Linked DNA regions of Homo sapiens: region 2 is linked to region 1. Evidence: fine-mapped expression QTL. Tissue or cell type: spleen. Region 1 holds a variant in brackets; the other region holds the start of a gene. All regions are shown on one strand. Distances are from middle to middle.

Region 1 (2,682 bases):
CGGGAGGTGGTGAACATAAGGAAAAGTGCAAGGGCTTTTGGTTTTGACCCTGCACCCAGGCTCTGCTTTACCGATCTAGCTTCTGTATTTCTACTAGTTACACTTTCTAAAAATCAAAATTAATCCTGTCACTTCCGGTTATGATTAACATCCACTGGCTTTTGCCATTTGCTGGACAATCCGGAGCAAAGTCTGGGGCCAATCTGTTTAGTGTCACTTATTTTTCAGGTTTGGTTTCTTCATCACCTGTAAAGGAGAGTGGCACAGGACTATAATCCCTTGTCCGAAATCCTTGAGGCCACCCGTATTTCAGAATTCACAGCCTTTTGGATCCTAGAAAGGTGATACAGTGCACATGTGGTATATTACATAATACCACCAGCAGGGTCTGTGCCCCACCCTGGAACCAAACACACCAAGTGAAACAAATAAAGACTAAGCAACCTTACTTGAGGTCAGGTCATTTTCTACTAATGGAGTTACCAAGATACTTTTGTTTTCCAGAGCTTTTCAGATTTTTGGAATTGTAATAAGGCTCACTGACCACCCTGGCAGAGTTGTTTGAAAGCTCAAATAAGATATGTGTGTGAAAATGAAGCAGAAAGGATAACCACAAAGGGTACAGAGGCCCTGATCTTCTTGACTGGGAATGAAAGGAATTTTTCCTTTTCTGACATTGTGCATGTGTGAGCAATTTATAAAGGACACTCTCTGATAGCCTTTCAGAAGCCACAGCAGGAAAGGAATAACCTAGTTTAAAGGATGCATCCAGCAGCCATAAAAAAAAAAAAAGAATGAAATCATGTCCTTTGTAGCAACATGGATAGAGCTGAAGGCCATTATCCTGTCAACGAACGTAGAAACAGAAAACCAGATACAGCATGCTCTCACTTATAAGTGGGAGCTAAACAATGGGCACTCATGTGGCTTGGCTCTGTGTCCCCACCCAAATCTCATGTTGAACTCTAATTCCCAGTGTTGGGGGAGGGACCTGGTGGGAGGTGATTGGATCATGGGGGTGGATTTCCCCCTTGCTGTTCTTGTGATAGTGAGTGAGTTCTCACAAGATCTAGTTGTTTAAAATTGTGTAGCACTTCCCCCTTCTCTCTCTCTCTCTCCTGCTGCCA[C/T]GTGAAGAAGTGCTGGCTTCCAAGCACTTGATTTGGCCCTTCTGCCAGGATTGTTAAGTTTCCTGAGGCCTCCCCAGTCATGCCTCCTGTACAGCCTGCAGAACTGTGAGTTCAATTAAACCTCTTTTCTTCATAAATTACCCAGTCTCAGGTAGTTCTTTATAACAGTATGAGAATGGACGAATACGGGTACACATCAACATAAAGATGGAAATAATGGACACTGGTGACTCCAAAAGGGGGAGGGTGGGAAGATGGAAAGGGTTAAAAAGGTACCAATTGGGTACAATGCTCACTATTTGGGTGATGGGTACACTAGAAACCTAATGCCCACCAGTATGCAATATACCCATGTAACAAACATGCACATGTACCCCCGAACCTAAAATTAAATTTTTAAAAAAAGAATGCATCCTAGTGTGACTGGGGACATTTGCATAATCAAGGGCAATTCCCATAACTTCTTCCTTATCTTGATTTCTCTGCCTCTGTAGGGGCTGAGGCTGGGCTAAGCTTGGAGATGCTGGAACTCACAGTGATGGGGACCCTCACAATGGAGATCTGTTCTTTACTGTCATTCTCTCCATAACTGTGAGCTCTATGAGGCAGGGACTGGGCCTGTCTTGTTCACTGCTGGGTCTCTAATGCCTAGCCCAGCTCCTGGTGTTTGTCCAGGGTGGACACTTGTTTTACTTTTTGCTGAATTGAATTGAAACTGATCTCTTATGTTCCTTGTGACAGAAGGCAAAGTTGGCATTGTCTTAACTTCCATTGTTTTCATCTTCAGGGAAAAACCCCTACACCTGGGGGTCATTCTGCCCAACTCTGCCCTCTCTGCCTCTGCTCATTGCTCTTTATAGCTTCCCTCAACACACACACACACACACACACACACACACACGTGTCTCATTAAATGAGGATTTGGGTCCCTGGCTCATAGCCTTCTCCTTCATCTTATTCCTTTTCTTACTCATAGAAGACTTTGACTTTGTGTGGACAACCCAACTATAAATCCAGCCTCACCAGGGACTATTGCTACTCTAAAATGTTAAACCCCAATATCCAATCTGACTAAAACTTATTTCCTGCTATATTGAATTCAGATTTCCTTTAATCCTGGTTCCTTAACTTCTCTCTTTTGACTCAATTAATTACCAGCTATCTAGCATGGATCCCATAATTTATCATTTCAATCATTCTCTTGCCAGTACCACCTACAACATTCTTGACCCTTTGTTCTTCTTCCTCATGTACCCTATAAATCCCTAATATCTGTCTTTTCCAGTCCAAAATCCAAGCTTCTGGGTGTTGCTGGAGACAGACCCTAATTGGGGCTATTCCCAGATATGATCTCCAGTTTCAGCTTTTTACTCTACTTGACATATTGCTTTTGAGTTTCTTTTTTTGTTGTTGTTGTTGTTGTTGTTTTAGAGACAGAGTCTTGCTCTGTTGCCCAGGCTGGAGTGCAGTGATATGCGATCTTGGCTCACTACATCCTCCATCTCCTGGGTTCAAGAGATTCTCCTACCTCAGCCTCCCGAGTAGAGTAGCTGGG
Region 2 (2,682 bases), 35 kb after region 1:
GTCCCCTGGTGAAGTGGCCAGAGGCAGAGCTTCTGTGTGAACTATTTGGAGGGGAGGGGAAAGAACTCTCCCAGACTGCAGGTTCTGAAAGGAATACAGAGATGTCAGAGACTGCAGTTGCAAGAGAAAGCTTTTATAGGAGGGTGTAGAATTAAAGGACAAGAGGACTCTACATGTGGATGGAGGAGGGCACCCTGTCCGGCAGTACTGCAAGAGCAAAAGTTTGGAGGTGGGAGTGAGGTGAGTGCGTCTGCCGGCCAGAATTCTTGGGCCAGGGTGAGCAGAAAGGTTGGAGGCCAAGGGAAGGTGGGTGGTGGTGAACCTTATCCTGAAGTGTGCAAGGTGACAGTCAGAAGCTTAGAACTCCAGCCACGGGCCCTGCATGTGGCCTCCTAGCTGTAGTCTGTCCACCGAGATCGTGAGGATGCTGGTGGTTGAAAGAACTGCACCTCTGAGCAGGTGAAGAGAGAAGCTAAGGAGGGGTGATGGCAGAGGCGATGGGACAGGCTTTCTAACGATGAGGGGCTGGGGATCAACGCTCTCACGGAAGCTAAAAGAGCCCCAGCAACCACCCGCCTGGGCCCTGAGCTCTCTCCAAAGCGGGAGGGGATTCACTAAGAGGTTGCTCCCCTGGCATTGAACTCAGCATCCTATACTGGTCCTCACCATGAAGACCCCCAAGAGTGCTTCAGACCATTGCTTCTCACATTCTCTGTATAAAGACACTAATTTGTTTTTAGATTTCCAAGCATGTCACGGACCAATATGTTTGTTAAATATACTAAGAATGAATTGCTAGAAAGATGAAATTAAAAAGACATACACCGCCAGGTGCAGTGGCTCACGCCCATAATCTCACCACTTTGGGAGGCGGAGGTAGGTGCATCGCTTGAGCCCAGGAGTTCAAGATCAGCCTAGGCAACAAAGTGAGACCCCCGTATCTACAAAACTTAAAAAATTAGCCAGGTGTGGTGGCGCAGTCTGTAGTCCCAGCTATTCTGGAGGCCGAAGTGGGAGGATCGCTTGAGGCTGCAGTGAGCCGAGATCGCACCACTGCACTCCAGCCTGGGTGATAGAGTGAGACTCTGTCTCCAAAAAAAAAAAGGACATACATCATGCAAGTTTGGATTTTTGTTTTTAGATTCAACTGACGAAGTTACGGGATCAAACTGCTGTAGGAGCTGCCAAACGCTTCTCTCCATTTCTGGCCGCGGGGCCGCGGACCGCCCTTTAAGTAGCCCGTTTTATCCCTGGCAGAGGTGGAGCCTTAGGCAGGCCTAGAGACTTTCCCGGGTCCTCCAGGCCGGGGAACGCCCCGCTCGGAGGCCGGGCTTGGGCGGAGACTGCGCCGGGGCTGCTGAAAACTAGCCGAGGAGAGCCAGGGAGCCGGAGAGATCGCGCGCCTGCCGCCGCCGGAGCCTGCGAGCCGAGACCGTAAGCGCCCGGGGCCGGCCGGGCCCGCACTCCCCGGACGCAGACGCGGTTCGGGCTCCGCGCGGGCTCGGCCGCCGGGGTGGGCGGCGGGCCGGGGCGCCGAGGGGTCGGGGCTGCGGTCGGCCCGCAGGGGTGCAGAGGGACTTGTAGTTGGTCCGCCCCCAGCTCCTGCCCCGGCCAGGAGACTGCGCGTGCCGCCTACTGGGGGAAGGAGCCTGCAGGCGACCGCGGACTTCTCGCAGGGAATTCCGCGTCCCAGACTGTGGGCGGACGCCGCAGGGAGGGAGGCTCGCGACCCCGAGAGCGCACCGCGTCCCCTGGCCTGGGCGAGCTCTGCTTCCAGGGCCGTGGCTCGCTCGGCGGTGAAATGCACTTAATTTGTCACCCAAGTCGGAACACTGATTTTCATGCGCGTCCGTGTGAAGAGACCACCAAACAGGCTTTGTGTGAGCAACATGGCTGTTTATTTCACCTGGGTGCAGGCGGGCTGAGTCCGAAAAGAGTCAGCCAAGGGAGATAGGGGTGGGGCCGTTTTATAGGATTTGGGTAGGTAAAGGAAAATTACAGTCAAAGGGGGGTTCTCTGGCGGGCAGAGTGGGGGGGGTCACAAGGTGCTCAGTAGGGGAGCTTTTGAGCCAGGATGAGCCAGGAGAAGGAATTTCACAAGACAATGTCATCAGTTAAGGCAGGAACAGGTCATTTTCACTTTTGTGGTGGAATGACATCAGTTAAGGCAGGAACCGGCCATCTGGATGTGTAGGTGCAGGCCACAGGGGATATGATGGCTTAGCTTCGGCTCAGAGGCCTGACACTGATCACACCTTTTAGTTGAAATGCGCTTTCATCTCCATCTGCTGCCGCAGCCGCCGCCCGGCACCCCCTCGCTCTGGTCTCGGGATTGAAGGCCAGCCCTCTCCTCTTGTAGAACAGGAAACTTGCCCGGGAGTTCACCTTGTAGTTGAAGCCAGGGAATGTGGTCAACCTGAGCAAAAGCGCCGCGGAGACCGAGTGGCCGCCTGCCTCCCTCCCTGGCAGATGTCGGTTTTCTCTGAGCTTCTGGCTCCTTCCTTGCCCTGGCGGCTCCCGAGATCTTGGAGGTGGGGTGCCTAGCAATGTTGTAATCCTAATTTTGACTTTTTTTTCTTAAAGTTGAATGCCCCCTCCATAGCCCACCTCCCATTGTTTAAACTTCAGGTTCCGCAAAGCCTGGATCCGCCCCTACAGGCAACACTCGTTGTCCTGGAAGTT

What was found. PIP is the estimated chance that this variant, and not a neighbour inherited with it, causes the effect.
Region 2: it holds the start of EPHX1, and the variant in region 1 is fine-mapped to the expression of EPHX1 in spleen (GTEx, PIP 0.98).

Annotation. Positions count from the first base shown.
Region 1 is chr1:225,773,861-225,776,542 of GRCh38, forward strand. No RefSeq gene overlaps it. Among named protein-coding and RNA genes, the nearest start is that of SRP9, 2.6 kb to the right of the region's middle. The variant C/T (reference allele first, on the strand shown) is at 1,128.
Region 2 is chr1:225,808,736-225,811,417 of GRCh38, forward strand. It overlaps EPHX1 (epoxide hydrolase 1), which reads left to right and starts at 1,389. Exons shown (of 9, transcript NM_001136018.4): 1 at 1,389-1,434. RefSeq lists a silencer at 1,347-1,566.